Linked DNA regions of Homo sapiens: region 2 is linked to region 1. The links come from fine-mapping of genetic effects on plasma protein levels. Region 1 holds a variant in brackets. A gene starts in the other region. All regions are shown on their forward strands.

Region 1 (10,986 bases):
GATCCCTGGGCCTGTGGCCAGGCCAGGCTAGCTGGAGGCCAGGATCAGGCAGACAGCAGCAAACAAACTCCCCAAGGAGGTGGTGCAGGTGGCATGGGACCCCTCGCTTGCTTGTCTCCAAGTTCCGGGTGATCGGGGCTAGGGGAAAATAATGGGGGTGGGGGGATGGAAGTTAAGGGGAGGAGGGGGGATGGATGAGGAGGGCAGCCTGGATGGAGGTGTGTGGGCAGGGGGCAGATGGATGTGGAGTGCCAGCTCCAGGGTAGATCAGGGCAAGGTTCTGCAGTGTGGGTCAGGATCCAGGGCCTCCGGAGCCTCCTGGAGTCTGGGCCTCACCTTGGAGTTTTCCTGACTTTTTGGACCTTGAGCCTCCTTTAAGCTGCAGGAGACCCAGACACGGCGCACTGTCCAGGGTGACCCGTTCCTGTTGGAGTTGGGTAGTGGTGGGAAGGGCTGCCCTGGGTACCCTTGGCCTTGCAGGGAACTCTGGGCTCTGGGAAACATAATTTCAGCCTGGCCTTGCAGTGTGCCACCGGGGTGCTCACATGGTTTCAGGCTGGTGAGGGGCTTAGGAGGTTGGCAGGATGGGCAGATGCAGCTTTCCTGGGCAGCGAATCCGATCATCTACCAGAGCTGGAGAGCCCTGTGACCTGAAAATGGCAGGCCCATGGGGTCCTGATGGCAGTGGGGGTGAGAGGGACCCTTGCCTTGGGCAAGGCTGAAGGCAGCAGCCTGGACTTTGCCCCTGAAACTCTGAGAAGCCCCAAGGCCGCAGGTGGGTGTGGACTCTGCTGCTGTCACTTGCCAGCTGCGAGTTTGAGGCCCTGTGTGCCTGTGGGGGTGGAATGAAGCGAGGCCAGTAGTGCTACAGTCTTCACATCACCCCCAACCCTCTCACAGCCCCAAGCACCTTCCCTGCACACTGGCCCAGCCCTCACGGGCTCCCACTGCCTCCTGGCTCTGCACACAGCAGGTCTGTGGTCATGTGTGGCCCTGCAGAGGGGACCCTTTTCCTCTCCCTGAGAGATAAAGAGCCCTGTGCCTGAAATGCCACCAGCAGTACTCATTCCTCTGGCTAATCCCAAACATTCACTGAATATTTGCTCTGGGTGCTTCGGGCAGGAGCCACTGCTCACTTCTGGCCTGGCCTGTTCCCCCAGGCCAAGTTTACATCTCTCCATTCCAGGCTTTGTGTGTAAGAGGCAGTCAGAGCCCTCGGGCCCTCCTGAAATGTGCATATGCACCACTAGCCCCGGCTGGGACATCCGCCCTCTGCTCCCTGATAAGGTCCCTCTCTGCCTGGACTGGGGACTGAGGATCCGAGATGGAAAAGCCCCAGCCCAGCGCCCCTGCCTTCCTGGAGTCAGAGAGGCCTGGGTTCTGCTTGTGGTGCGGCCTTCACCAATCACCCCCTCCTCAGGGCCTCCATCTCCCTGCTGGTGTGGAGTGAGGGATGAATTCACAGCAGGGCTTGCCAGGCTTTTTTTTTTTTTTTTTTTTTTAACTGTAGAAGCTTTCCTTCCAACAAAATCTTGCGAGGAGCTCAGTGTCTGAAATTGAAAAGCTGGGAGCATCTTCTTGATTGTGTTTTTTGGGGGCGAGTCCCTGGGCTTTGTTTTCTCTCCCCCTTCACTCCACCTCTCTCTCAGGTCCTGGGGCACCTGGAGGGGAGTTCCAGGGACCTGGCTGGGAAAGAGCTGTCCTCAGTGCCCATGGGACCAGTCCATGGGATGTGTCTGTACATCTGTGTATCGGGCCCTGAGGCCCACCTTTAGCCCACCTCCCCTCCCGAGGTCTCCTTCTGCCAATCACCTGCCTAATGCCCCTGCACCCTGGTGTCAGGCAGCCCCCCAGAGCTGCATCCCTCCCTCCTGTAGTTAACCAATGCTCTATGAGCCTCTCTCAGCCAAGACCTTGGCATCAGCTCACCACTGCCCCGCCCCTGGCCCTCCCCTTCATCACGGGCCGTCTCTCAGGCTTGGCGCCCTGGGATGCTCCCTTGCTCCAGCTCTGTGACTGTCCCCATGAGGGTCCTCCCTCAGTGCAGCCCCATCTCTCCAGCGGTGCTGGCACGATGGACCCGGTTGACTCCCTGCCTCCTGCCCTCTCCGTTCAGTCTAAACTGCACAGTCTAACGTAGGAACCACTAGAGCATGCAGCTATTAAAATTCAAATTAAATTAAGCTGGGTATGGTGGTGTGAGACTTGTCCCAACTACTCACGAGGCTGAGATGGGAGGATTGCTTGAGTCCAGGAATTCACATACAGCCTGGGTAACATAGGTCTCGTCTCTAAAAAACAAAAACAAAAACATTATGGAATGAGCCTCTGGGGATGAGGAGCTGATGTCCTGAATGGACCAGTGACCAGTGCAGGAGGGGTGGAGTCCTAGCAGGGGTAGATCCCAGCTTTGGGAACCAACTTTCCCAGGCACTTGCCGGCCACTCCGTGGGAAAGTCCTCAGGCAGCCTGCAGGGAGCTGGGATCAGCTGATGGGGATGGGTTTGGAGGGGAGAGAGTGGTGCACAGGGACTGGAGGTGGGGGAGGGGTGGGGTTGCCATGGAAAGGGCTCTTGGGATGGGTCTTGGGCTGAGCCTTTGGCAAGGCCTCCACCCTGGAGCTGAGCCAGCAGAGAGTGGGGCTGACTCCATGAGGCCCAGACTCTCGTGGGTATTCTGGTGGCCTGGGCACCCTGTCTTTCCTGAACCCTGCCTGCCTAATCTAAGAACTGCTCCCCTTGTAGCTCTGTCTCTCCTCTGTTGGCCTAGTTTCTTCATCCATGGGTGGGCACAGCAGAAGCTGTCTCACCTGCTCCATGGTGAACGGGATTTGCAAGGATTTGACTCTGGCCATCCAGGGAAGATGGAGTCTTTGACCAGGCCTGGCCCCTGAAGCAGACTTCTTCCTTCTGAGCCTGCTGGGGAAGCAGAATTCCTCGATGCTGGGTGTCATGGTCTACCAGGCCCTCCCTCGCCCAGGCCACTTGTGTTGAGCCTGGAGCAGAACCCCCAGATCTGTAGTCCGCCTGTCAGCTTGGGGAGTCTCCGTTTCCGTCTGTTTCATTCCCATCAGCTGTGTGTGGCTGAGCAAGTCACTTAACCTCTTGAGGCCTCCATGTCCTCATCTGCAAAATGGAGACACACATATCTGCGTCCCCGATGACCACCAGTAGCTGGGATGATACGTCGACTGCAGAGTGACCACTTTGTGTAGGCGTCCCTGTGGATGGTTGTCAGTCAAAGGAGTGAGTCAGATGATGAGAGGGGAGGACAGCAGAGCAGCAGTTGTTTCTTCAGTCTCGCCGGGACTCCAGGATCGGCCATGTTCTGCAGCCACCGCCTCTACCTGTCTCCCCATGTGGGATCCTGAAACCTCAAGCTGCATTTAGTTTCAGAGTCCGGGGAGGTGCTCACTGTCTTCTGACTCCTGAGATGCCGACTCCCTCTGCCATACCCCAGGGAAGGAACCAGTAGCAGAAGCTCCAGGGAAACTGATGAAGGTCAACAGAAGGAAGAACTTCTAGCAGCCCAAAGGGATTGGAATGGGCGGCCCGTGGGAGTGGACATGCAGAGGCACTGGCCTGGGGTGAAGCCTTGGACCAAATTCTTACTTGCAGGCCCTCTGGACCCAGGAGAGGAGTCTGCAGGCCTCGGCTGGGCCGGATTCCGCAGATTCTGGCCTAGGTCCTGAATGCCTGGTGAGTTACTGAGAAAGGCCCTACAGGCTGAGGGTGCCAGTCAGGGTGAAGCAGCCCCGCAATTGGCCCACCTCCTTTTGTACCTTAACAAAGGTGTCTTTGTTACCTTTCTTAAAGGAAATAAAGCCGGTCAGGAGCAAGGCCTGGCATATTCAGGGGGTCATCTGTATTTGGTCGTCCAGCGGGAAACCCAAATGGAAGGAAAGAAAAAAAAAAAAAACCATGCATTTATAGAACCTCTGCCAATGGCCAGGCTCCATGCAGAATGCTTTGACACCGTGGCTCAGCCAGGTCTCCCACAGGACTGCAAAACAGAGGGTGACATCTTTCTTTTAGATCGGAGAAGACTGAGGACCAGAGAAGCTAAGTAACTTGCCAAAGGGCACACAGCAAGTAAGTCATGGCACTGGGATTCAAACCAAATCCTCCAGACTTCCAGTAACAGTGGAGCCGGCGTGTCCTGAGCATCTGTTGTGTGCTTAGGCATGGTCCCTAGCTTTTTGCGGGGATTAACTCACTCAACTCTCACAACAACCCTGTGAGACAGAAACGGTTATACCTCCGTATCGTGGAGGGGGAAACTGAGGCACGGGGAGGCAGAGTGACTTGCCAAGGCCACAAGCAGTGTTCGGATCTGGCCATTGTGGCCACTGGCCTACCTTGTGCCCCAGGAGCTGCTGTACATGGCAGGGATTGCTGCAAAGATGTGCCTCCTGCCTTCTTTTTGGAGGTGGCAGAGCCCTTAGGTCACATGGGGCAGGACCAGGCCGGGTGGAAGGTGAGCACAGGGAGACGGGCTTCAGCGCGAAGCCCTTTCGTACAGTTGAACTAACTCCTGGAGAGGTAGTGCGGGTCCACCCCAAGGTGTACCAGGGCTGGGGGCAGTGGATGGGCTACTTCCTGCCCAGAAGTAGAGACTGAGGTTGTTTCTGGCATCCTCCAAAATGCCCCTCATGGACATT[A/C]CAGGGATGCCCTGAGTGCCCACTGGGTGTTGGGCCTGCTTTACTGCTGGACATGTGACAGCTGGCCCCTTCTCCCAGTTGGAGGAGTGCCCAGTGGCTGTCCCCCAGCTGAAGACGCCAGACATCAGGTGTTGAGGGGCAGGCGGAGAAGGGGCCAGAGGGTGGTGGACAGGGGAACCGGCTGTTAAGACATGAGCCGTCTGAACCACGGAGGTGGGTGGCAGGGGCCAGGGTGAGGCCAGCCAAGGGCACCCTGGGGACTGAGCTAGGACTCTGGCCAGCACGGGCAAGCTCAGGACCACGGAGAGCTCCACAGGAGCCGCCCTTCACCAAGCGACAGCTGTCAGTGTGAGTCTGCACCTGGGAGGCTGCTACCTGCCTGGCCAGCTCCCACCATCACAGCCAGTGGCCTCCAGAGAGCACCTCCCTTCTCCCTGGCCAGAAGCCCCTGGCTGGGCTCCACCTGAGTCCTGACTATGAGGTCATGGCTGGGTCATGGAGTTTGGGCTCATCAGCTTCCCTCCCTCACAGCCCGTCAGGCTTCCAAGCAGAGCTAGAGAAAAATGGCACAAGAAGTGGGAAGAGGGAGGGAAAGAAGGAAATCTGTCCAGCTCAGACCCTCCAGGCCATGGCCACTGCCTGAGGCCTGCCTGCTGCCATCCTGGGTCAGCCTCAGCCTCCCTCTTCCAGGATCACCTGGCTGCCAGGAAGCACCTGGCCCATGCTCTACCACCTATCCCAACAGACCCAGGACCGGCCAGAGGCGGTGGCCCACGCTTGCAATCCCAACACTGGGGGGCCGAGGTATCACTTGAGCCCAGGAGGTCGAGACCAGCTTGGCAATGTAGGGAGACCTCCTCTCTACAAAAAAATGTTTAAAAAATCAGCCGAGTGGTGGCACACACCTGTAGTCCCAGCTACTTAGGAGGCTGAGGTGGGAGGATCACTTGAACCCAGGAGTTTGTGGCTGCAGTGAACCTTGACCACCCCACTGTACTCCAGCCTGCCTGGGTAACAAAGAAAGACAAAACCCTGTCTAAAAAAATTTAAAAAGTCACAGGCCCCTGGGGCTGGGCACAACTTACGGGGTGTCTGGCAGCGGGGTGGGGGTGGAGCCTCAAGCCCCCCTTTTCTTGGAGTCTCAGGAGGCGTGGCTTCCCAGCCCCTGGCCCCTCCCCACAGCAGGTTTAGGTTTTGCTCCCTGTTGCCCTGAGATAGGACAGCACCCACCTAGGCTTAGGCCCTGCCAGGGACTCACCTCCAAGCCTCTGCTTCTGGTGTGTCCCCACCCAAAGGCTCACTCTTTCTCTTCTCTGCCAGGCTGGGGAATAATAATAGAAGAGCTAGCACTTATCATTGAGTGCTTACTGTGTGCTAGGCATCTCATCGATGGGAAAACAGAGGTACAGAAAAGTGCTTAACCTGCACAAGGCCACACAGATAGGAGTGGCAGAGCTGGGATTTGAACTGGGGAGTCCGAGCACATGGAAGTGATGGTGAGGGCATTGTGGAGGCCCAGGGCAGTGCGGGGTGATCTCATTGAGCACCTGCTGTGTACATTCCCTGCTCTAGGGAGCTTATATGCCAGCTGGGAAGACAGACATCTAGGGGAAAATGAGCCTAGTGTTGACTGGGGCTGGGGCCGTGCATAGTTCTCTCTGATTCTTACTTGAAATAAGCAGGGCAGAGATAATGATACCCATTTTATACATGGAGGAGTTGAGGCTGAGAGAGGTCAGGTGACCTGCTCTGTTCATAGTGACTATAGGAACATTGATGATGATGAGGAGCTGGGGGAGGTTGGGAGAGTTCGGGATGGGCTCTGGCTTGGGGCAGAGGCAGGTGCTTTGGCTCCAGGGAGGCTATCTTGGCACAGAGCAGGCATCTGAGAAATACTAGGTGAATTTTAACGAACTGAGTAAGAGCCAGAGTATGGCATTTGTGCTAACAGAGATTAGCCTTGGTGGTGGGAAGGAGCTGGAGAGGGGTTTTGTCCTCAGAGAGCTGCCTGCCTGGGTCACAGAGGGCGCCCAGCCCAGGGAAGGCCCTAAGCCCTCGCTCAGTTAACCTTATTCCCCAGGTAGGTCCTAACCACAGTGACCCTCCTGGCTTCCTGAGCTGCTGGAGGACCTCAAGCCACGTACATCCAGGGAAGTAGGTGGGAGTGGGACAGTGGGCTGGACGATGTCCCCCACAGTGCTTTGAGGCCACAGGGGGACCACAGACAAAGCATATCCCACCCCGCCCATCCCTCAGGTGAAGCTTCTAGACAGCATGCTGCAGAGAGGACCTGAGGTTTGGATCTAGAGACAAAGGTTAGCCCAGGACCTGCTGCTAGCCAGTGTTTGACCTTGGCCATGTCCTTCACGCCCAGCCTCACTGTTGGTGTCTGCAGGAGGAGAAGTAGTGGTTAGGGCTAGGCCCTGCAGAGACAGATGCTGGCTGCAAGCCCCAGGTCTGCCAGATAGGGCCAGCCTCCTCCACCCCAGTCAAGGGCTGGTCCATTCTTCCAGTGCCTGGGGCCACCCAGTGTGCTGCCTTGCTCACATCCAGCTCTTCAGCAAATCCAGCAGAATCTGAGCACACTCTACACCCTACAACCTGGTGGAAGCCACCCTGACTCACCTGGGCAGTTCAGTGTGGCCTCCTGGCTTCCCCTGCCCTGCCCTTGAAGTGCCCATTCATTCTCAGCAGAGCAGCCAAAGTGAGCCATTCACACCAAGGTCAGGCCATGGCCTCCCTTCTCTGAATCCTCCAGTGAAAGCCACACTTCGAACCATGCCTCCAGGCCCTGTGATCTGGGTTTGTTCCCTGCCCCCCATGTCCCCTCACTTGCTCCGTCCCACCCGCCTTGCTGTTCTTCACTGGCGCACATACACTCCTGCCAGGGCACTGGTTGTGCCTTCTGCCTGGAACATTCTTCCCTGGCGCCCTCTCCTGCGTGGAGTCTGCTCACGTCGCCTCCTCGGTGAGCCTGCCCTGCCCACTCCATTCATCACTGGACATAATGACGCACTCGCTCCTGCCCGTTACCCGCTTTGTCTTTCTCCAGAGCACAGCCTCTTTGGGCGCGCAGTTTTCTGAGCTGACTAGTGTGTTTGTAGTTTACGCAGGCTCCCTACCCTGTTGGGTGCTGAGCAGGTTCCCTGAGGGCAGGGATTTTGGTCCGTCCTGTCTCCCCATGTTCCCAGTACCCACCGAGGTGCCTGGCACACGGGGCTCTGGCAAAATCGTTGCTGAGTGAATGAGTGACGTGGGTTGGGTGAGCACCCTGTGGCATGTTGTATGGATCAAATGCCCCAGGGCTGCACCATCCACTGGGTTGTCTTCACTGGTCACAGGTGGACTCCTCAGGGGCTCTGTCACTCTACTTGGGTTGAACTTGGCAGCTGGAAGGGGCTCAGGACAGCTTTACCACTGGATACAACCCCGTGATTGACCCTATAGGATCCAGTATGATCCTTCTATTGTGCAATGCTGTGCAAGCGACATCATCTCCCTGGCCTCGGTTTCCTTATACAAGGGTACCTGCTTCGTGTTGGGAGGATTCAGTACAGTCACGTGTGTAACAAGCTTAGGACAGTGTCTGGCATGTCAGCCTCAGTGATAGTTTTACTGTTACACCTGATGGTTTGTCAATGCTTTGTTATTTTTGCTTTTGAGATAAGAGTCTCACTCCCCTGCCCAGGCTGGAGTGCAGAATTGCGATCTCTCAGCTCACTGCAGCCTTGACCTGCAGGGCTCAAGCAGTCTTCCCACCTCAGCTTCCCAAGTAGCTAGAACTACAGGCACATAGTAGTTCTGCATGCCTGGCACTGCTAGAAAGTAGGCACTGCTAATTTTTTTTTTTTTTTTTTTTGTAGAGACGGGGTTTAGCCATGTTGCCCAAGCTGGTCTTGAACTCCCGGACTCAAGCAATCTGCCCACCTTGGCCTCCCAAAGTGCAGAGATTCCAGAGGCATGAGCCACTGTGCCCAGCTTTGATGAAGCTTTGTAATGGAAGCTGAAATGCCACCAACTGGGGCCCAGTTTGGTTCCATGGCTTTAGCCCACAGCTGGGCCACCTGCACTACAGAGGGATCTGGTGGTCTCAGCTGTCATGAGGGAGAGAGGCACTGGCTTGAGAACCAGAACTTACGTTCAAGTCCTGACTCAGCCACCTCCTTAATGATGTCCTTTGGGGAAAGTCTTGCCATCTTTCTGAGTCTCGTTTTCTCCATCTGTTAAAACAGGGCAGTTTAAATAACCTACCAGAGTGCCTGTGAGATTTAAATGAGACCCTGAGTGCCAGTGCTTATTTATTCCATTTTATTTATATGCTGTCTCAATAAAAAAATGAAAAGACAAAAAGGAATTGAGCTGAAAAGGATTGAAACTATGCGGGCAGCTGCAAGTGAAGGAGTCCAAGAAAATGCTGTCTGTGAGGTGCTGTTGACATGCTCTGGCTGACCACTGTGTGCTTCTGAGCCTCCTAGCAGCCTGAGTGATGAGGGAAACATGCCCAGATCCTTGATTCTCAGCAGCAACCCAGACTGAGGCCTTATTAAGGGGCCCTGTCCTGAAGGCTCCAGTGACTGAGAGGGGAGCTCCCAAGCACTGGTGAGTCCGTGCTCAGAAGGGCACAGCTGGCTATGAGTAACTAGATCCTGAAAGCCAGCCAAGGGGCAGCTGGGTCAATCTGACCTCAGCAGGTCCACGGAGGCCCTTTACGCCAAGCAGGCTGTTTCCTTGCCTCTCTGAGTTCCTCTTACCTTGCTTTGCTAAAGCCTTTGTTCATGCTGCCAGGGGATTTAGAGTCTGAATGGCAGCCCCAGGCCATGCCTGCCACATAGCTTACACCAGTTGTGTAACTTAGAGTGTCCCCCTCAGAGGCAGGTCCCAAGTACAGAAAAATAGCCCACTAAGGCTAGGCACAGTGGCCCACACCTGTAATCCCAGCACTCTGGGAGGCCAAGGCGGGCAGATCACCTGAGGTCAGGAGTTCGAGACGAGCCTGACCAACATGGTGAAACCCCACCTCTACTAAAGATACAAAATTAGCCGGTGTAGTGGTGCATGTCTGTAGTCCCAGCTACTCAGGAGGCTAAGGCGGGAGAATTGCTTGAGGCAGAGGTTGTGGTGAGCTGAGATCGCACCATTGCACTCCAGCCTGGGCAACAAGAGCAAAACTCCGTCTCAAAAAAATTAAAAAATTAAAAAAAAAAAGAAAAGAAAAATAGCCCACCAGAAGGATCCAGGCTGCCTTTCCAAGTCCTGAAACCCCAAGAGTAGGTTGCTCTGGAAGCTTCCGCCATGCTAACCCCGGCTGCAGTATTGCCTTGTGTCTGGTCCTGGCCACAGCACTCCTAGCCCCTTTTGCTCACCCAGCTGGTCCAGCCCAACTGGTCTCACTTTGCCAGACAAGGGCTGGAATCCAAAATGGAGAATGAAGTGCAGAAGACCCACTTCAAAATGTTATCAAGGAGCAGCCCCTCCTTCCAAACTCCAGTGGCGAACAGCCCCAGCTCTGCCCTGGGACATTTAGCAGAGGTCAGGCCCCTACCCCAGATTGTTCTACCTGCCCGCAGTCAGCTGTGCCCACTCCGTGTGGACAGCTCCAGGGGGGCAGGCGTTTACTGGAGGAGGGATATCTGAGCTCGAATGGGGCAAACGCTGCCCTGATTGTCGGGATCAGCAGCTCCACTGCTTCTTACCAGCCTGCTCAGGACTCCTCGCAAGCTGAGGTCATGAGGGGCACCTGGTGCAGGAGCCCAGCTGCCCGGTTCACACTCCAGCTCTGTTGTGACTTTGGGCAGGTCCCTGAAGGCCCCTAGGTCCTGGTTTCCTCCTCTATAAAATGAAAGAGTTGGAGGAGATGGTCCTTAAAATTTCTAGATCAATCGTGTTGTGATTCTGTGCCTTACGACCATGTGGCTTGTAGAAAATTAAACTGCGGGCATCCAGCCTTGAGCATTGAAGGGAACAAGAGCTTATTGAGCATGCTGCATGCCAGGAACTCTGTGCCCATTTCACAGATGGAGAAACTAAGGTTCAGAATGATTAGGAGCCTTGTTTTTTTTTGTTTGTTTGTTTGTTGTTTTTTGAGACGGAGTCTCACTCTGTTGCCCAGGTTGGAGTACAGTGGTGCGATCTCGGCTCACTGCAACCCCCACGTCCCTGGTTCAAGCGATTCTCCTGCCTCAGCCTCCCTAGTAGCTGGGATTACAGGTGCCCACCACCATGACTAGCTAATTTTTGTATTTTTAGTAGTGACAGGGTTTCACAATGTTGGCCAGGCTGGTCTCAAACTCCTGACCTCTGGTGATCCACCTGCCTCAGCTTCCCAA
Region 2 (10,986 bases), not on the chromosome of region 1:
AGTGTAACCATCACCCAAATAATGTACATTGTACTTATTGAGTAATATTTCATCCCTAAGCCCAGCTAATTGTGAGCTGAGCTGAGAATGCATGGATGCTTCTGTCACATCCACTTAAATCAAGGAAGGCTTCTGGAAGAGGAGGATTCTGAGATGAACTATATTCAAGTGGAAGAAGAAGGAAGCAATTTGAGGGATACAAGAGTAGAGGCTGATCCAAGCTTCCTTGCTGAGATCATGCCCCACTAAACTTCCTTTTGTGTCCCAATCATACTAGATATCACCATACACCGCTCATGCTCAAAAGCATAATCAAAAACACTATTAAACACTGTTTCTCCCAGGAAGAAGACTACACTTACTATGAAAATTGTAGTGGGACAGAAACACACTTAAGGATGGAATAGGCTTGGCACTGTTCTCCTTGTCAGCAAGCCTTCTGCCTGATCTATTTAACTTATGTGATAAAAGAGATAAAGGTTTAAGTGAAGGGCTTCAGATGCTGCTTCAGTTCCTACCAAGAATATTTTCACAGCTCCTTCTCATGAATAAGTTCAGTGAAGCAGAGAATGCCCCTCTTGGACCAATTCCATTTTGTGCTTTTTTTGATGCTGTCAAAAAGGGGAACTAGAGCTTAGGCTTTTCCTTCAAATTTAGAGCAAGCATCTACCTCAGAGATGGCTGCAAGTGGCCCAAAGAAGGTAAGACCCACATTGTGCAAAGGCAGCAAGAACGGATATGTCGACCGTTACTCATAAATCTCCTAAACGTGGCAGCAAGGAGGGTTAATTATCCCCCCCGCCCCCACTTCCTGCCACTCTCTGCTTTCTCCAATGTGTTAGCCCATTACACGGATCGCTGACTTTCTAGAAATATTCCCTGGCTTTGCGGGGATGTTCTTTTCAATAAATGGCATCCAATTTGCTAACGGTCCCTGGAATCTCAATTTCCTCAAAACATTTTTCATCTGAGCCCAGTTCATAGGAAGGTTTCGTCCTTCCTCGTTTTTCGGCATAAGGGAATAGGCAGAGCCTGCTTTTCTTTTTCTTTTTTTTTCTTTTCTGTGTCATTATTTTTCATAAACTGAAAGCCTTTGCTGAAGAGTCTGAAATTTGGGAAAATTCCAGCTCATCTGTCAGATATTTCTAGAGTTACGTAAAATGTAATGAGATTTGTATAGTTTAGAACAGGGAAGAGAAAATAAGCTAATGTGTCATATGTTCTATGAGACAAAGACTACATGATAATCAGAAAAACAGCCCCAAATTTAGTTGGCCTGATTCAAAGCTCTCATTCTTTTATCAATTCATGCATAAACCAGTAACATTCACTTTCTTCTCTTAGAATAATGGCACGGCCACATTTGGGCTAAATCATAATTGCTACAGATTATAGCCACATTTTCAAAGAAATTATAAAAAGTGTATTATTTTCCAAATGCAAGACACTTACGTTTTACTTGCTCTGTTTTGCCTCCTTCTAGCAAAAGAAAGAACAACAACGAAAAGATGTATTTCATGCCTCCCATTTTCCACTTTTTTCTCATTTGGACCACTGCAAAAGGTGACAGAACCTTCAAGCTGTTGGGAAGAAAGCAGAAAAAAGACTTAACACAGATCTTCTGGAAATGATAGAGGTCACTGATGCTCAGGCTTCTAACCTGCTAGAATAAAAAAAAAATGTCCTAGAATTTACATAAGTGTAAGTATTGTCTGCCTGCACAAGATAAAGGACTTGCCTCTCCTGTCTTGCAAGGCTTGTGGGTGAAAATTCAAGTGAATGAGGGTGCATTCCTATCCAAAGCTGAGGCTAAGTCCTTACAGGCAAGTTATAGGAAAATGAAAATAAATTTTGAAATCTTCCTTTCTAAGGGAATTAAAGTTGATTTCTCAAGAGATTTTTTTGGGAGAAAAGGGAAACTTTAGCTTGCAAAAACGGTTATTTTAGCAAACAAGGTAAAAGTAACAAGCATGAGACCAAGCAATTTCTGAAATGAAAGTTAACTAATCTTAGCTTCAAGACTACTTTTAATCCTTTTGGAATGAAGTACAAATTGATCAGTTTCTCCTGTGTCCTCTATGAGATCTACAAGGATCTTTGGTTTGGCAACTAATATTGCAAAAGATAGATGTAATTAGCAAATGGATGCAATTAAACACCTGAAAAGTTTTACTGCTTAAAATGGTTCCAACATATTCCTCCCCCAAGAAGTCCATTGTAAAATGGAAATTTTAAATGGGCCATTTTTAGGGGAAATTGGGCAAATTAAATAGATAATTTGTTCACCTTGCACCACCATGCAAAAGACCATTAAAACAACTACAGTTCTTCAAAACATGAGATTGGCATTCCCAGTATAAGGGGTAGAAATCTTAAACCTTTTGAACCTTGGAACACAGAAAGTTTGCTGTAGCTCACATCTAGTCACGGATCATTTCCACAGATGTTAGAGTTTGCAAAATTCCTCCAATGGGTGATCTGAAAATATTGAAATGTTCTAAAAACACCAGATTCAATCTGAATGGGAAATGAACTCATTGATCTTTCCAGAAAGTCCAACCTAAATATTGCACATAAAGAACTTGAAGGAATGCAAAACGATCATTTTGGAGAGTTGAATATCTTTGGGCTCTGAAGTAGATGCTACAGCTCCTACTTAAATGCTATGAAGTTGCCTGGGTCATTCAAAATCCACTGTTTCAATTATGAATGCATAACCAAGGAAGAACTGATGATAGAGTAATCTGTGCTATCAAACAAGATTTGCAGCACCGTCTGCCTTCCTTCTTTACCTCCTCCCTGCTCCTTAAAGAACCAAATTCTCTCAGGACATGTTCCTACCCATCTAAAGACCTGAGTTCTGATGTCTTGGTCCCCTCTGTGAGTTTGTGGCCCACTTACAATCACTCAGAATGTTACTGTCCCTTGAGGGCTACCACGTTTATTCGAAACAAATCATTTTCATTAACAATTTAACACAGCTACCCACCTCAGTGAGGTTCTTCCTGAGCCTATTCTAATAAGTTTATTCCCCAAGCCTCCAAAAGAGAAAGATTTTTAACCACTGAAATCCAATTTATCACATTCATATATGGATTTCAACGGGTGTTTCTGAAACCATGGTTTTAGGGTCTCCCCATGCGAGAATCAACAGGGCTGCTTTTCTTGTATAATGGTTGGGCGATTCGGTGAACTGTAGCATTGCTTCATAACTCAAGTTGGCAAGAAAACAGCTCATAGATTTTTTTGCCTTTCTTAGGTCCCAACTAATATTATGAGCAAATAAAAAAGTTGGTAACTAGAGAGCAATTAATCTCCTTTGGCGTTCCTGTCATCTGTGTGGCCTCCCAGGCTGTGATGGAGAACATCAGAAAATGAATCGCTTTATAAATATTCACTTTTGATTTACAAGATCCTGAAGTCCTGCCTTTGTATTCTGTGCAGAAATATGAACCAAGAAGAGTTCCCTCCCCAGATCTCCTCACTGTTCAATTTCTCTTTATCTCTTCAGCTTTTTCTTTTAGGGAAGGGGGTGGTTCAAAACATGTGTTGGGACTGCAGCAGTAAACACTAGCAAGCATTGCTCAGCGAACTTAGCCGACTCTTATTCTTGCAAAGAGCCAAACTGTCCTTAATTTTTCAAATTATACTTTGACCCAGTTAACTGGAGTTATTTCTGCATTAACTCTCTGTCTGCTTCACACAGGCTGTTGTGCCATTGAACTTGCACTGGCTCTTTTACAGGTTACTTAGACATGTAGCCATTGACATGCTTCAGGGGATCCAGGACCCAACAAGAAAGCAACAACAACAACAAAAAAACAAAACCCTGCAACTAACACAGGTAGTGGAGGTGGGATGGGAGAGTTCCTGTGTTTTACAAGAGAAAGAGAAATGTATCAAGTACCAAAAGAAAGGTATTTATTAAGGTGCTTCCATGAAACAAGCATTCACATTGTTCATCTGCGTTAAGCAAAGGGACCAACTGCTCCTTGCCCAGCTGTGACTGCAAGGCAATCTGGGCCATCAAGTGTCAGGAGCCCACTTTCAGAACAGGTCTCCTGGGTAGAACAGAAGCAAAGAGACATCCCCACAGGAAGGCTAAGGGATGAACACATGTCAGCCAGTTCTTCACGCCCCACAGTGTCTCTTTAATCCTCCTGAGAGGCTTGACTGACCTTGTAATCTCACATTGACTATCATCTGTGGGACAGCCCCTAGGGTAGCAATTTTCTTTCCGACAAACAATAAGAAAGACACTGGAGTCCCAGGCCCTTGTCCATCAGCTGAAATCCTCTCCCCACTCTACCACCCAGCAAGAAAAGTTCAGTTAACTGGTGGTGTGTTGCCACTGAAAATGGCAGTTTTAACCCAGGGTATCTCTTGTTGGAGGAAATGCTTTCATTGCTGCTTATGACTGACAAACAATGCCTCGCATTTGGCTTGCAAAACACCTTTCTATCATTTCATTTCATTCCACACAACTCCACCTTCAAAATGGGCACTGGGGGGACCCAGAGAACTCAAATAACTTTAGTGGCAGGGCTGGGAGGGACTGGAAAGCAGGCTTTCCGGGCCCTATGTTCTGGCAATATACCACGTTGCTTCCAGAGCCTAGTGTCTCAAATTCTGACCCCCGTAGTCAGGGACAAAAAATGAGGCAGATGGCCAGAGGATAGGATAGGGAGCCTTTCGCCCATCTACCCTGCTACATTAACTTTACCATGTATTCATCAGCAAAATGAGAAAACAGGCTCAGGAATACAGGCAGTGATTAAGGGGACTGCAGAGTCCCTTGGGTAGCTCAGGGTGGAGTACCTAAGTGACCTCTCAAAGCGCCAGAGCATAAAGAAATGCAGGCCGAGTGGGGAGGGACGAGCTGTGAGTTCGAATTCAGAGACCCCCAACTTGCTTTGGTCAGAAGCCTTGGGCCCCACCTCCATCCAGGTTGCTAACTGCTGGAGCACAGAACAGGTTGGGGTGGCAGGGGAATTTGGGGCACCCTGGGGAAACTTCCAGGGACGGCTCCGGCCAAGAGAAGGCAACCCACCTGTGCAAAGGCTGGAAAAGGAGGTGAGGGAAGCGGGCGCCGGGCACTGCTCACTAACCTGGGCACTGGCCTTCTCCGTCTGCCACGCGTGCACGCGCTCCGAGCTCCCCGGGGCGCTCTCGTCCGAGGTCTGGGGCTGGCAGGTTGTGGCGAGAGCTAGAGTGCGCGCGAGGGGGGAGGGGGAACTCAAAAGTGGGTGGGAGGAAAAACATCACCGCCCTCACACCACGAGGGAGCAGCGGCTTGCTCGGCTCCCGGGGGCAGAGCCAAGGCGCGGGCGCGGCGGCCCGGGGCCACCTGCCCGCCCTCCCGCTCGCTCCCCACTTGGCCCGAGAAGCCGGCCGCTCGGCGCTGGCGGGAAGTCCGCAAGCACGCAGCCGCTGCAAGCACGCACACTTTCTCCACCCCGGCACAATGGCTTTATTTCTGCTCCCCCGGCCCGAAAGTTTAAAAATCGGGAGAAAGTGTGAGACTCAGCCGGCTACTTTCCCATCACACAGCGCCCCCACTGCAGCCCCCACTCCTTTGGCTAGGCGAGCGTTGGGGTCTTAAAGGGACCGCACAGCTCCTCCGGTCCCTCCTCCCCCTCTGCACTGGATGCACCTAGGAGCTCCCCACCACTCGCGCACGCCCTGAAGATACCGACTACCCTCTGACTCCCCTGCCTGGAAGCCCACACCCGCTCTCCTCCGGCACCAAGGCCTTTCCGAGGTGTGCACCTGGTCTGGTACTGAGCTGGTGCCCTGGACACAGAATGAACCCTCCTCGCAAATCACGCCCTAGCATGCTGCTTATCATTTCACGGCGTTTCCCATATCCACACTGTGGCTAACAGAGTGACAAAGCTTTGGTTTGGTGTCCTTAAAGGCGGGGTGGAGATGGGTGTGTGTAGGGTCAGGGATTAGAAATCCACTTTCTCTTACAAACTGGGCTCCCAAGCCTCATGGAAAGGGCCTGTTCTAACTGTTAAGTGTCTTGAAGAAAACTTGGTGCCACACACTATACCCACCATTTTTTTTTTAAATGAGTCCCTAAGCTTCTAAGTTGGGCCAAGAGCTCAACCTGGAAATCACAGTAGCACTGCTGATGCCTTGGTGGGCCTGCCTACTCCAAATTTGTGTTTATTCAACAAGTGATAGTTGCAAAGAATTGTCAGAAACTTCTAGGGTCCAGGAAAGTGCTGCCTCGACAGACAAAATTTTAAGCCCCTAAATTTGGAGAAGAACCGCAGAGCTTTTTTCTAGATGAACTAGATAAATATCTATATTCCTAACATCTGTATAGTACTTTATGGCTTACGGAGTGTTTTCACATACATCAACATTACTTTTTAAACCCTCAAAACCAACCGAACTACCTGAGGTCTCAAGTGTTAGAGTTGGTGGGGAACTTCTGAACCATTCAGCTTAACTTCATCATTTCACAGAAGAGGAAACTGAATTGGGGGAAGAGGATGATGTATCTAAGGTCACACAGCTAGTAAATGACAAATTTGAGATTCCAATCCAGATTCCCTGACTTTCAACCCACTACTCTCTGGTTGTTATCTCCAGTCTGTAGATGAGGAAATTGATGTTCAGAGAAACTGTGGCTTGTCAAAAAAACAAACAAACAAACAAACAAACCACTTATCAGGAACAGAAAACAAAGAAAAATTAAAACAAGAATAATTGTCCCTGAACGTTACCTCCTTTTGCTTTTTCAGAAGTGTTAATAGTATCCAGCTAGCCCCTGCATTGCTGGTGATGTTTATTTCACTGTTAACAAAGGAAAGGGGGCCCTTTCTGTAATGTTGCCTTCAGGGCCCAAAATGTCTAGCTCCGTCCTGCTGCCTGGGTAGCCATACACTGCCACATGCATTCAATTTGTGCTGTTGTATATCGGTTTGAACTTGCTGATTTGTTGCCTTATAACTGTTCTCATGCCGTTTAATGCAGTGATGTTTTGTCTTACTAGATTGTGAGTTCTTCAAGGGCAAGGACTGGTTGTTCAATTTCTCTTGTGCGTGCATTACCCAACTCCCATCATTACTTCCAACATGCTTACAGAGTATTCTGGAAAATGAGTTTCAAGGGATAGTCTGAGACAAACATAAATTCTAGCATTTAAAATAAATAGACTCACTGGGATTTAAAAGTTCATCTATTTGGCTACAACCACTCACTCCCTTGCTTGGTGTAGAATCCTAATTACTGCATAACAAACCATCCGAAAACCTAGTGGCTTAAAGCAAGCAATTATTCTCAATTGGTTCTATTGAGTTGATTCTATTGAACTTGCTTAAGATCTCTTATGCAGTTGCAGGCAACTGTATATGGGGCTGCTGGAATTCTCTGACAGGTTTTTCATTAGTGTAAATGTTAGTCATCCTTGTATTTTGTATTAGTTCCAATCTTGATTTCTGAATTGAGAACTCCCATTTGGGTGAGTCCTAATCTAGACATCCTACCAGGTCTTATAGAAACTTAAGTGATGATTACCTTCATGCTTTATTTTCTCTGTTTATTAAATAGGGATGAGAGCATAATCTCATACTCATTTTTTAAAAAGTTTTATTTTAAGATAATGGTAGATTTACATGCAGTTGTAAGAAATAATTCAGAAAGATCTCAAATACCCTTCACCTAGTTTTCCCCAATGATAACATCATTCATAAATATAGTACAATGTCACAACAGGACACTGACATTGGTACAATCCATTCATCTTACTCTGATTTCACCAGTTTTATATGCACTCATTTGCCTGTGTATATAATTCTATGCAATTTTATCGCATGTGTATATTCATGTGACCACCACCACAGTAAAAATATAAAACAGCGCCATTACCACAAGGATACCCTGTATTACACTTTAATAGTCACACCCATCTTTTCCCTTCCTCCTCTCCCTACTCCCTGTCAACTACTAAACTAAATTGTCCTACATCTCTATAATTTTGTCATTTAAGAATGTTACGTGGAATCATACGGTATGCAACCTTTTGAGATAGTCTCTTCTCTCTTCTCCCCCAACCCTGATATAATTCTCTGGAGACCCATTCAAGTTGTTCCTGGTATCAATAGTTTGTTCCTTTTCATTGCTGAGTGGTATTCCATGGTAGGGATATATCACAATTTGTTTAAACCATTCATCTATTGGAGGGTTGAGTCTAGATTTCGGTTACAACTGCTATGAACATTTGTCTACAGGTATTTGAATAAGCGTAAGTGTTCATTTCTCTGGGATAAATACCCAACAATGTAGTTCCTGGGTTGTATGGTAAATGCATGTTTAGTTTTGTAAGGACTGTCATACTGTTTTTAGAGCAACTGTACTATTTTATATTCCCACCAGAAATGTGTGAGAGATCCAGTTTATCTGCATTCTTGCCAGCATTTTTTGTTGTCATTATTTTTTATTTTAGCCATTCTGGTAGGTATATAGTGATATCTCATTGTGGTTTTAACTTGCATTTCCCTAAAACCTAATGATATCTACCATCTTTTCATTGTTTATTTGACACCTGTATATCTTATCACAAATATTTTATCCCAGTCTGTAGCTTTTCTTTTCATCCTCTTCCCTTGAACTTCCACAAAACAAAATTTTTTAATGTTTTATGTCCAATGTATCAAATTTCTGTCATATAGGTCATGTTTTGGCATTAAGTTTAAGAACCCTTTACCTAGCTCTAGATCCTGAATATTTTCTTCTATATTTTTGTTTTAAAAGTGTTATAAAGTTTTACATTTAATTATGATCTATTTTGAGTTAATTTTTATAAAAGGTATAAGGTTTAGGTTGATGTTCATATTTTGCCTATATATTTTTGTCCAATTGCTCCAGTATCATTTGTTGAAAAAGCTATCTTTCTTTCATTGAATTGCTTTTACACCTTGATCAAACATTGGTTGGTCATATTGTGTGAATCTATTTCTGGCTTCTCTATTTGATCCCATTGATCTATGTGTCTATGCCTCCACCAGTACCACGCAGTCTCGATTACTGTAGACATATGGTAGGCCTGAATTTCAAGTAGAGTGGGTCCTCCCACTTTATTCCTCTTTTTTAGGGTTGTTTTAGCTACTCTAGGTCTTGTACCTTTCCACATAAACTTTAGAATAAACTTGTCTATGTCTACAAAATATCTTACTGGAATTTAGCTAGAAATTGCATTAAACCTATTGATCAATTTGGGGACAATTGACAAATTTAATTTGTTGAGCATTCCAATCCATGAACACAGTATCTCTCCATTTATTTAGGTCTTCTTTGATTTCATTCACCAGTGTTTTGTAGTTTTCAGCATATGACTTCTATACATATTTTGTTAGACTCGTATCTACATATTTCTTTTTCTTTGGAGCAATTGCAAATGTTATTGTATTTTTAATTTCAGTTTCCATGCACTCATTGCTAGTATATATGAATGCAAGTAGTTGTTGTGTGCTGATCTTCTATGCCATGTGTTGCAGAACTCATACTTATTTAAAAAATAAATATGTAAGTGGAGGTATTATGAAATGATTATATACAAAATAATTTTCTGATAGCACAAACTTTTTGCCTTTTAGTGCTTCTTGTCCCACTGGGACTTAGAAAACTCAGGTTATTAAATTAACTTTCAAAAATGGCAGAATACATAAAGATTGATGAGTATATTGTACTATAGGTTTACCTCTTTTTAGAAAAGATGCCACCAACTTAGAGTTTGTATTAATCAGATACTTGATTCAATATATAGAAGTTGACAATTCTCTGTAAAGACCCCTTAGGATTATTCAGCTATATTCTAATGAGCCCTTTTGTTATTTGTGTATGTTCTTGTTTGTTACTGAAATTTTTCTCTGTTGTATTTTCTTCCTGCTAGCCATTTCTAAAAACTGCTAGAAAAAAGAGTAATGTCCATCAATGATAGACTGGGTTGAGAAAATGTGGCACATTTACACCATGGAATACTATGCAGCCATAAAAAATGATGAGCTCATGTCCTTTGTAGGGACATGGATGAAGCTGGAAACCATCATTCTCAGCAAACTATAGCAAGGACAAAAAACCAAACAACGTATGTTCTCACTCATAGGTGGGAATTGAACAATGAGAACATTTGGACACAGGAAGGGGAACATCACACACGGGGGCCTGTTGTGGGGTGTGGGGAGGGGGGAGGAATAGCATTAGGATATATACCTAATGTAAATGATGAGTTAATGGGTGCAGCACACCAACATGGCACATGTATACATATGTAACAAACCTGCATGTTGTGCACATGTACCCTAGAACTTAAAGTATAATAATAAAAATAAAAAAATAAAAAAAAGAAAAAAAAAGAGTTGGTATGGTTCATCTAATATTTCCAGCTTTCCTCCTTTTGAGCTCATGGTAGGATTTTACTCCTCTTCCCTTTTTGAAATTAAGTATTGCCATTTGATTTGCTTTGGCTAATGAAATCTTAGCAAAAGTCATGTGTTGCTTATTTTTACAGCATAACCTTCAATACTGTCTCTTAGCACCAGTGAAAACAATTCTGTTTCTTAGAATTTTATGACAACCAAATAAGTAAATAGCAAGAGTAGGTTATAGATTCTTGAAGGTAGAATTAAAAGGAGCAGATTCTCTTTGTTTTAATGTATTCTTATAAGTTAAGCTGTCATTTTCTATTTATGCCTTTCAGTTATTGTAGTAAACAAAAATAACGCAAAGTATTTTTTATTTGTGCTTTGTGTTATATATGAATATTATCTTATAGAAATAATTTTCTTTTTTAAGTGATTTTAAGATATTTTTAGAAGCATTTTAAGTGATTCATTTCCCAAAGAAACACATCTCCAGATTTATAATAAAGGGCATTGTAAAAGCAAGATTTGGCTTACAGAAAATTTCAGGAACATATTTATTTTTAAAAATCAAGATAATCTCATCATAGTATACAGGATTATATTAACTACC

Alleles and levels. Alleles are on the strand shown, and positions count from the first base shown. The strength of an association depends on the size of the effect and on how common the allele is.
For the plasma level of the protein whose gene starts at base 5,182 in region 2, A is the low allele of the variant in region 1 and C is the other (weak association).

The links. PIP is the chance, under the fine-mapping model, that this variant and not a neighbour inherited with it causes the effect. Protein levels are from antibody-based Olink assays in UK Biobank. Linkage for the fine-mapping came from a reference panel and not from the study's own genotypes, which makes the PIPs less certain.
Region 2: it holds the start of CHRDL1, and the variant in region 1 is fine-mapped to the plasma level of the CHRDL1 protein (UK Biobank, PIP 0.98).

The regions. Positions count from the first base shown.
Region 1 is chr22:39,473,649-39,484,634 of GRCh38, forward strand. The region is part of intron 1 of MGAT3 (beta-1,4-mannosyl-glycoprotein 4-beta-N-acetylglucosaminyltransferase); the gene reads left to right. MGAT3-AS1 (MGAT3 antisense RNA 1) reads right to left here and starts at 3,174. Exons shown (of 2, transcript NR_126469.1): 1 at 2,810-3,174; 2 at 2,159-2,291. RefSeq lists a silencer at 1-65 and enhancers at 231-1,160, 4,798-5,299. The variant A/C (reference allele first, on the strand shown) is at 4,661.
Region 2 is chrX:110,790,636-110,801,621 of GRCh38, forward strand. CHRDL1 (chordin like 1) reads right to left here and starts at 5,182. Exons shown (of 12, transcript NM_001143981.2): 1 at 5,109-5,182; 2 at 1,453-1,580. The coding sequence starts at 1,546.